Linked DNA regions of Homo sapiens: region 2 is linked to region 1. The links come from fine-mapping of genetic effects on gene expression. A gene starts in region 1. The other region holds a variant in brackets. All regions are shown on one strand. Distances are from middle to middle.

Region 1 (5,532 bases):
AAAATATTCAGTGGCCGGGCGCAGTGCCTCATGCCTGTAATCTCAGCACTTTGGGAGGCTGACGTGGGCAGATCACGAGGTCAGGAGTTCGAGACCAGCCTGGCCAACATGGTGAAACCCTGTCTCTATTAAAAATACAAAAATTATCTGGGCATGGTGGCATGTGTCTGTAATCCCAGCTACTCAGGAGGCTGAGACAGGAGAATCGCTTGAACCCAGGAGGTGGAGGTTCCTGTGAGCCGATACCATGCCACTGCACTCCAGCCTGGGTGACAGAGCAAGACTCTGTCTCAAAATATATATATATATGTTTTCAGCATATTATTTGAAATTAGAACCAATATTTTATTTAAAATATGTTTGTTCTGTTTCCAAACTTTTCATGCAGTTTGCTATTTAACACTTACAAGGCAACACATATAAATATTTGTATACAATAATATTCTACACTGGGGAATGGAGACTTAGCAAAGTTCAGTTTCATAAAGAAAGCATGTCCATCACAAATTAAAACAAGGTGGATGTTCAGTCTCCACACATTTTTACAAATCGAGCCAGCTACAAGCAAGTAGGCTTTCAGTAACTCATCTGGAAGGTATTGGAAGGATAAAAATAGACTAAATAATCAGAATTTCCATTCTAGTAGTTTCCTGCTTTTTCCTGCATCTCAATTGTCAGTGCAGGGCCTGGCTATTTCACTCAGTGCTAGGCAAAGACAGTGGAAGCTTGTTAAGCCACAGCTATTCAGGCTACCAGATTGTCCAGGCATTGGCCTTTGCCTGCCATGAAACAGCTCCTTTCCTGTCGTCATATCTGAGTGGAAAGAGCAAAGGCGGGAGACTGTATAAAGACCCAGAAGCCAGGATGACAACAAGTGTTGTGGGATTTTACAAGCATTCGTAGGTTCCTTTTCAAGGAAAGCCGGGTTTCTAGAATCCATCAGTTGTCTGCTGGCTGGCATGGCAGCCTAGTTTATGGGAGAAGCACACTAGGGAATCCTCCCTTTTCTGGCTTATAGAGATAGGTGGAGTCGATAGTCACAGGGCATTCTCATGCACTTTTTTTTTTTTTTTTTTTGAGATGGAGTTTCACTCTTGCTGCCCAGTCTGGAGTGCAATGGCGCGATCTCGGCTCACCACAACCTCCGCCTCCCGGGTTCAAGCGATTCTCCTGCTAAGCTCAGCCTCCCTAGTAGCTGGGATTACAGGCATGTGCCACCACGCTGGCTAATTTTGTATTTTTAGTAGAGACGGGGTTTCTCCATGCTGGTCAGGCTGGTCTCGAACTCCCGACCTCAGGTGATCTGCCTGCCTCGGCCTCCCAAAGTGCTGGGATTACAGGTATGAGCCACCGCACCCGGCCTCATGCGCTTTTTACCATTTTAGTTACTTTCTTTCCTGAAGCCGTCCTTAAAACATAGATGAATGCGAGTTTCTGGGAACTATGTGACCCTCATTCCCCTACATTTTTTATATTCAGGTGGCAGATTTCCTCCTACTCAGCCCAGCCCTTCTGAATAGGGTCCAAGTCATTGATTTATTCATTTATTTACCTCCTATGTGGTGTTTGGTGTGGAGCCTCACAGAGCAGTGAAGACGTGGTGTTTTTCCTTATACAGTTTACAGTCTCCTGGGGAAGACTAATGTTAAGCACATTCTTTCATAAATTGCAATTATGACCATTGCTCTGAAGAAGTAGTAAAGGATATTATGGGAGTGTTAACAGGAGGGCCTGGTCTGGACTGCGAGGGTCAAGAAGCCTTCCCAGGGTGGAGGCGAACTTTTGAGATGGCCAGGAAAAGATGAACAGAACTACTCAAAGAAGCCAAGTGCAGAGTTTCAGAGGTGAAAGAAACCAAAGATACCATCTAGGGAAGCCCAATCTCCGCCGGCTACCAATGAGAAAACGGAGGCCAGGCAGGGTGGGAGGATGGGTAAGGGACTTACTTACTTGCTGTTAGCAGTGAAGTTACACGGCCTGTGAGCCGCGGGGGCTGGAGATGCAAACCGAGCTTGGGTTTCTTAAGTGGGTAGGAGTGGAGATGTATATGCGAAGGAGAAGGGATTAGGAGTGGTGGAAACCAGGTAGGTTTTAATTTAGTGCCTAGGCTCCCTCAGCTGCAGAGCTACCTCCTGCGGTGGGGGAGGGGATTAAAGATGACTCAGACCTGCCCTAGCCCAGAGAAACTCCGTTTGCAGTGCTGAAGCATAGTTTTTATTTGGGTTTGGGGGAGGAGGTACTGAACACACATACAGGCAAAACAATAAGTGTAGAGTTCAGAATTGGGAAACCAGTCCCTCTTCTGCAGCTGTTCAGCTGTGTGATTTGGGATAAGTCACTTAACCTTTCTGAATTGCAGTTCAGTTTATACTTTTGTGCGTTTCTTTCAGTCTTTTTCTATACATTTTAGGAGTTTCTTAGAGATCAGTCGTGCCCTGTATTTCACCTCATTCTTTCAAAGCTAAAGCCTCTTGTTTGGTAGAGCTGTGTTTCAGCCCCTTTTACAGAGCAGTTTGCCAGCCTGTGCTTGCCCAAACATCTAGAGAATAACTAGCAAGCGAGCCAGGAGAAGATCCAGGAGCTGTAAGAATCGTTAGCAACTGAGCATATTTCTATAAACCAATAAAGGTTTTTCTGTTTTGTTCATCTGTTACCCTTATGCTGTTGCCACTTTCACATGCAGTGTCTGTAGGCGGAGAGTATGAGATAACAGCATTTCACAAATGAAAGTGAGTGGAAAAGGGCTGCTTCCCCTTTAAGGCAGTCTCAGCTCCAGCTCCCTCCCCTTTCCTGATTGACAAACCTACCCGAAGTCACATGATCTGCCTCTATTTGAAGGTCACAAAAAGCTGCTTCCTTTAGAGACAGAGAGGGAGAGAGAGAGCAAGAGGGAGAGTGTGTGAGAGAGAGTTAGTTCAAGCCAAAATGGCCGACAGAGTCTCTGCTGGTTTCTGAATATTTAAAATACAAAAAAACAGATAGACAAAAAGAATTCATTTTTTGGACCTTTTTTCATTTCCATTTCTACCTTGTATGCCTCAATTTGCTGGATTTAAGCACTGCTGCACTTTATGAGGTTGGTAAATATTTTCAATTTTTTTTAACCAATTGATTTATATGGATCTTGTCTAACCGTTTTCACTGGTGGTGTTGCAAATCGACATTTGTCTAGCATGGAGACTGGCTTCAGACATTTCGTGGATCTGTGTAAATCAGACCCGTGATGTACTTTGGTTCGGCATTTTAGAAATGGAAAAGACGTGGTAAAATATTTAGATTTTGAAGTGATTTAATTGCACTTTTAATGTATATGCAGATTTTCATCATCGTTTCTATCTTGCAATAAATGAAGCTGCGAGTAATTGGAAATTTGCTATTTAGAAAGAGGTTTTTAAAAAACACAGACCTCCCCCTCCCCCCTTAAATCTGCTGCAAAAATTTGCATAAATATAAATGGGTTTGCATTCTTTCGGCTGCTAAGGCCGACAAAGGATCTGGGAGGGCAAGCCCTAGAACGGGAAAGCCTTTTTCTATCTTTTTATTTTTTAAACTGGGCCCTCCTTCCTAGAGAGATGTAAAACCTAAAGTAAGACCTAATACATTTTAAACATCAGGTTGGGGGCGGGTGAACACCAGGAGGTTTGGGGTTTGTAGATTCCCCTGCTTGAAAACCTCCCAAGCAATATGTGGCTCACCCCTCTCCTTTCTGCGCGCGCTCATTTGCACTGGGTCTCTGTGTGTGTTCTCAAATGTGCAGCCAGATGCGCTTTTATTTTGATCCTGGATTCAACCAAAGGGTAGGACTATGTTGTAAACATGGTGTTTTAAAGATATGAACAGCTATTCACCGCGATTAGAAATTATTTCTTTATCAGTTCTCCCTGTGTATTAGCCTTCTTCATTCCTCACGAAATAAAATTTTTGTTTAATTTTACACAGATGCAAAACTGAGTTTTTCAGCATAAATTCATCGTGTGAGTGTGTGGTTGCCTGTTTCGGCCATGTATCCACTGCGAAGTGGTCATTTAGGGTCACATGTATAAGTAGCAGTCTATGTGATTGTTAGTAACCCCTGAAGCTGTGCAGTGCCTGAAGTTAAATTCCATTACTCCTAATGCAGGATTCTGGAAGCCTGAGAGCAGGGAGGAAAGAAAGCTGAAAACTTGCTTTCTCAGAGCCTCCTCCCCCTATCATTGTGAGAGTGTGATGTAATGCTTCTCGGTCTGGTGGGCTGAAAGGATTGTAGTTTGTGATGTGGCGGGTAAATTGCCCCCACCCCTGGGTAAATTACTCCACCCCCCTGAGCACATCCCTGGCTCTGAGAGGCCTTGTTTTCTTTTCTCTTTTTTTCCTAATTTGTATCCTCCTGATTTATGCTGTGGCATATTGGCATGAGAAAGAGACTGTTCTTCTAAATCTGTTACAAAGTATAGTTTAGAAAAGGCATTTAAAATATGCAAATGGGTTGAATTGTCATATCCCCATCATTAAATATGTAGACGTGGATTAAAGCTAATTAAGCATAAATGGAATAATTTTGATCAGAAGGGAGCAGTGTTTTTTGTTGTTTCCTTTTTAATTAATCTAATTATGAGATGCTTACTGGGCCTGAAAGTGTTAAAAAAGATAAAGTGGAAAAAATGCTGGACCATTTTGAAAATTTGACAGTCTGGAAGAGGGTGTGTGGTGCTTTCAAAAGCTTTATTCACTCTTAAAATGGATTGGCCTCTTGTGCTGAAAATGGCCTGTTTCTTTGGGCCAATTGTGTGTAGATGAAGGGACTTTCACGCTAATTTAACAAAAAGACTTTCCATTTGAATACATAAGATAATTAAAGCCCTCTGTCTCTAACAAGCAAGGATTTTATTATTTTAAAAAATTAATGTTGTTATGTTAGTAATGGTAATAAATACAGAAGTGACTGTTTAGATTCACTGTAAATTTTTTGATGATATAAATTCAGCTTTTGTGTAAGAAGGATTGGAAACATTACATTAAAGAGGTAGTCTGGAACAAAGTTGTCTCTAAATTTTTTTACGGCTTGAATTTAAAGGGAAAAGATAGAGAAATTACCTTAGTGATAGAGAATGTTGCATTGTGGTAGACCTAAAGGAAAATCAGCTCTGATTTTTGTTGCTGTTTTTCTGAAAATGAAAGCACTTTTTTGGGGCTTTGCTTGTTATATGATTCATTTTACACCTATTTCCTAAAGTTGGTCTTACTGAAGAGGAGATAAAACCTAGGCTTTCCATGTTTTGCCATTATCTTGTTTTTGTGGCTGTGTAAACATATGAATGGCAGGTTAATTCAGTTTGCAGAGAGGAGGAACCAGAGCAGGGTACCTGCTGTCTTAGGCAGAACAGAGAATGATACAATGAATGCCATTTGATTCTTTGAAATGTTTTTTATAAATATTCTTTTCCCCTGGATAATTAAAAGGTGAGATAAATAAGACCTGGCTTCACGTATGGGAAGCATTATGGCTCTGGTGAGTTGATAGCTCGACTGCCATTTTGGATCTCAGATCCTGCA
Region 2 (5,000 bases), 210 kb after region 1:
AGACAGGGCCTCATTCTGTTGCCCAGGTTGGAGTGAAGTGGTATGATTTTGGCTCATTGCAACCTCCACCTCCAGGGCTCAGGCAGTCCTCCCACCTGAGCCTCCCAAGTAGCTGGGACTACAGGTGTGCACCACCACACTCAGCTAATTTTTTAAATTTTTTGTAGTGATGAAGCCTCACTATGTTGCCGAGGCTGGTCTCAAACTCTTGGGCTCAAGTGATCCTTCTGCCTTGGCCTTCCAAAGTGCTGGGATAAGAGGAATGAGCCACCATGCCCGGCTACAAGGCATTTTAACGATGCAAGATAGTGCATTTAGGAACTGGAAATACAAACTGAAGTATTATATTATTACTCCAAATTTAAAAGGTAAATCTAGAAGCTAAATAACTGGAGTCCTTTAGTTTCTGGAAAAGAACAAATGATAAATAAGCATGAGAGCCCTTTATTACTCCCCAACATGTATGTAAACTATTGTGCAATTTGTTGTAAGTTAATAATTCTTGGGGCCGGGCGTAGTGGTTCACACCAGTAATACCAGCACTTTGGGAGGCCAAGGTGGGAGGATTCCTTGAGGCCAAGAGTTCAAGACTGGCCTGAGCAACATGGCAAAACCCTGTCTTTACCAAAAATATATACAAAAAACTAGCCAGGCATGGTGGTATATGCCTTAGTCCCAGCTACTCAGGAGGCTGGGGTGGAAGGATGGTTTGAGCCCAGGAGGCAGAAGTTGCAGTGAGCCAAGATTCGCGCCACTGCACTCCAGCCTGGCAGACAAAGTCAGACGCTGTCTCAAATAATAATTCTTATTTTATATTACAGATTTGTCTTTCTATCAGATCAGAATAAAAGCTCCACAGAGACAGGATTTTGTTTTGTTCACTGTCCTGTCTAGGATCTAGCCTAGGGTGTGACACAGAGTAAGCACTCATGATGTGAAATGAGAGAATAAGAGTGGTGCCTGCCATGTGAGGTCAGGATAAGTTTAGGACTCATCAATCTGAAAAAGTAAGAGTTGAGAGGAGACTGAAATTTAAAATGGCATTATGTTAACAGCTACAACATAGCACCAGTTCTTCCATTTATCTATTGCTGTTTACTGATCACTCCAGAATTTAGCAGCTTAAAGCAACAATAATCATTTTATTACTATCTCTTGCTGGGGGATTGGTTGTTGGTAGGTAGTTTTTCCTGGGGTATCTCAAGCAGTTGCAGCTAGGTGGGACTGGAGTCATGTCTAAAGTTTCCTTAGATGTCTTGGGGTTGATGGTGGCTGTCAGCTGGGTCCCACCTGGGACTGTTGGCCGGAGCACCTATATGTGACCTCTCCATGTTACCTTACCTACCTCACAGCATGGCAGGTGTGTTCTAAGAGCTAACCTCCCAAGGGAACAAGGTGAAAATGCATGACATTTTTATGACATAACCTCAGAAGCTACACAATATCACCATATTCTCTTGGTTAAGGGAGTCACAGAGGTTTGCCTGGGTTCACGGGGAGTGGATGGGACGTAGACCCCACCATTCAATGGGAGAAGTTTCGTCACATTTGAAGAAGAGCATGTGTGAGATACGTTATATTGTGTTAGCCCATTTTTGGAAAATAGGATCTCCATGCCAAGCATGTGATAGGGGTTTTAAGAACTTTTTCACTTATTCTGCAGGTACCTATTATCCTAATTTTACTGATAGGGAAGCTGAGGTTAGGGAAGATGAATTGGCCACACAGCCAAGTGGCAGAACAAGTTGTCAGGCCCAGGCCTTCTTGCTTCCACAGTAACACTGTATAAAGGTGAAGGTAGATTTCTTCAGAAAGTCCTGAAATACTATGGAAGGTTTATTTGTGTAGGTCATAAAACAGGTAATTAAATATCTCATGAAACAGGCGATTACTACTTCAAACATTTATTAAATCCCTAAGTACTGTAGTAGGTGCTAATGAGGATTCAGCCCTTGAAGAGCTTTCAGTTTATAGATAAGGCACCTACACTAGTAAAGTGAGATAGAAGTCAGTAGGAACGGCCGGG[T/C]GCAGTGGCTCACACCTGTAATCCCAGCACTTTGGGAGGCCGAGGCGGGCAGATCACGAGGTCAGGAGATCAAGACCATCCTGGCCAACACGGTGAAACCCCATCTCTACTAAAAATATAAAAAATTAGCCCGGCGTGGTGGCAGGTGCCTGTATTCCCAGCTACTCGGGAGGCTAAGGCAGGAGAATGGCGTGAACCTGGGAGGTGGAGCTCGCAGTGAGCCGAGATCACGCCACTGCACTCCACCCTTGGCGACAGAGCGAGACTCTGTCTCAAAAAAAAAAAAAAAAAGTCAGTAGGAACAAGTAAATGTTGAGAGGAAGTACTAAGGAAAGCTTCACAGAAGTGGTGTTTCAGAGCTAAGCACTGAAAGAGGGATGGAATCTGGATATTTGGAAATGGAAGGTGGCCTTCTTAGCAGAGGACACAATATAAATAAAGGCACAGAGGCATGTTGAGACAGTAGTGAGGGGCCCAGTTGGCTAAAGCTTAGGGTACATGAAGGGAAAATAAGAGCTGACTCAAAAAGAGATTGGGGTCTATGGAATCAGAGCTGTGCTTCAGGGGATATTAACCTACTCTTTGTTTAACATAAACGGAATGATAATCTGGAGACACAGAAATCTTTAGGAGATTTTGACAGTGGCCCAGAAAAGTGGCAGGGAGGGTCTGGATTAAGGCAGTGGAAATGGAGATGGAGATGCTAGAGGTATTTTAGAGGTAAAATCAGTAGACTTGCAACTGATTTGATATGAGAGTAAAAGCAGGAGCCAAGGCCAGGCATCATGGCTCATGCCTGTAATCCTAACACTTTGGGAGGCCAAAGTGGGAGGATTGCTTGAGTGCAGGAGTTCAAGACCTTCCTGGGCAAGATAGTAGGACCTTGTCTCTAAAAATAAAAATTAGCAAGTCATGATGGCATGCGCCCGTAGTCCTAGCTACTCAGGAGGCTGAGGAGAGATGATTGCTTGAGCCTGGGAAGTCAAGGCTGCAGTGAGTCATGATCCCACCACTGCACTCAATTTGGGCAACAGAACAAAACCCTGTCTCTAACAACAACAACAACGACAAAAAAAAAGGAGCCAAAAATTACCCTAAACCTTAGGATCTGAATGTCTTGGGAGAAGAAACAGGAATATTAAAAAGAATCATCTGAGATAGAATAAAAATAGATTTATTCAGGAAACACAGATTTTAAGCCAGGCACAGTGGTGTGCAGCTGTATTCCAGTCTGGATAACATAGGGAGACCCCCATCTCCAATAAATAAACAAAAATTAAAAAAAAATTAAAAAGAAATACATATTGGCCAGGTGCGGTGGCTCACGCCTGTAATCCCAGCACTTTGGAAGGCCAAGGTGGGCGGATCACGAGGTCAGGAGATCGAGACCATCCTGGCTAACACGGTGAAACCCTGTCTCTACTAAAAATACAAAAAATTAGCTGGGCATGGTGGCGGGCGCCTGTAGTCCCAGCTACTCAGGAGGCTAAGGCGGGAGAATGGGCATGGATCTGGGAGGCGGAGTTTGCAGTAAGCTGAGATAGCGCCATTGCACTCCAGCCTGGGCGACAGAGCAAGACTCCACCTCAAAAAAAAAGAAATACATATTTTAATGTGTTGTGGTATATAGTCAAATGAAGCTATCCAACAATAAGTTGGAAATAATCTATGTTGTCATGGCTAGAGATAGAGATTTGTAATTTATATGACAGTAATAGCTAAATCCCCATTCAGAATAGGGATGGACTCCCCATTTGGAATCCATTAGGAATGGACTAAAAGAAAGAAGACTGATGTGGGGAATGTCTTTTTTGGGGGTCTGGAGAAAGAAGAGGCAGTAAAGAAGCAGTTAAATAGAGAAGAAAAAACAATATGGTCTGTGCCCTCAGAGTCATTGAACAGTTCAAGAAACCAAAGTAAGTCAGCAGAGTCTGATGCTTCAGGGAGTTTCAGGAAATGAAGCCATAGGAACTGGATTCCAAATAATGACTAGGAAATCACTGGAGACCTTAGAAACCAGTTTAGGTGGTGACAGAAGCTAGGGTGAAAAGCTTAAGGAGTGAGTTGATTGATGAAGCATGGGCGCTTTTAAAAAGTATGGCAGTGAGGCAGAGGGATAAGAGCTAGAAAGGTAACAGCTTGAGTGGGTACAGGGATAGTTGCTTTGTTTTGTTTTGTTTAATTCAGGGTTCAGGAGATCTAAGTATTTGCAGTGGACACGAAGCCATTGGAGAAGAAAAGACTGAAGATGCACAAAGGAAAAGAGTATAAAGGAAATGGGTTGAAAGGTTCTCGTGGGTGGAGAATTTAACGTAGGAAGGAAGAAAACCACTTTCTCTTCTGAGAGGGCGGGCAGAAAGAGCAAACAGGTGAAAAGCCGTTTTGACACGGAGAATAAGGAAGTTGAGGAAGCTTAAGTCTAATAAGCTGAGCTTCGTTAAAGCTGGAGTACAGTCCCTCAGCTGGGGGTGAGTGGCAGCAGAGAGTAGTTGGGTTTCAGAAGAATTATGAGAATGATTTGAAAGTATCGCTGAAGGAAATATGATGAAAAGTCAACTAGAGATGAATGAAGGTTGCTGAGCAACCGTGAAGATAAATAGCATGTGGCTTGTTCCCTAACTTTGTCCAGGAGGAACATGAGCAGAAAGAGCAGAGGAACAACTTTTTTTTTTCTTGAAGACCGGGTCTCACTCTGGTTGCCCAGGCTGGAGTGCAGTGGTGCAACCTCAGCCCACTGCAGCGTCGACCTCCCGGGCCCAGGCGATTCTCCTATCTCAACTTCCCAGGTAGCTGGGACTACAGGCGCACGCCACCATGCCCGGCTAATTTTTTGTTTTTTTTTTTGTTTTTTTTGTTTTTCTATTTTTAGTAGAGACAGGGTTTTGCCATGTTGCCCAGGCTGGTCTTGAACTCCTGCACTCAAGCAATCCATCTGCCTTGGCCTCCCAGAGTGCTGGGATCACAAATGTGAGCC

Direction of the effects. Positions count from the first base shown, and alleles are read on the strand shown. Sizes are in standard deviations (SD) of each study's normalised expression.
For the expression in fibroblasts of the gene that starts at base 2,861 in region 1, allele C in region 2 goes with a higher level than allele T (small effect, 0.34 SD a copy in GTEx).

The links. PIP is the estimated chance that this variant, and not a neighbour inherited with it, causes the effect.
Region 2: its variant is the best candidate, but not a certain one, in a credible set for the expression of TNRC6B in fibroblasts (GTEx, PIP 0.70).

Annotation. Positions count from the first base shown.
Region 1 is chr22:40,175,065-40,180,596 of GRCh38, forward strand. It overlaps TNRC6B (trinucleotide repeat containing adaptor 6B), which reads left to right and starts at 2,861. Exons shown (of 23, transcript NM_001162501.2): 1 at 2,861-3,076. The coding sequence starts at 3,072. RefSeq lists an enhancer at 2,700-2,749.
Region 2 is chr22:40,381,167-40,386,166 of GRCh38, forward strand. All of the region lies in intron 1 of SGSM3 (small G protein signaling modulator 3), which reads left to right. It also overlaps a transcript of ADSL not described here. Among named protein-coding and RNA genes, the nearest start is that of SGSM3, 13 kb to the left of the region's middle. The variant T/C (reference allele first, on the strand shown) is at 2,027.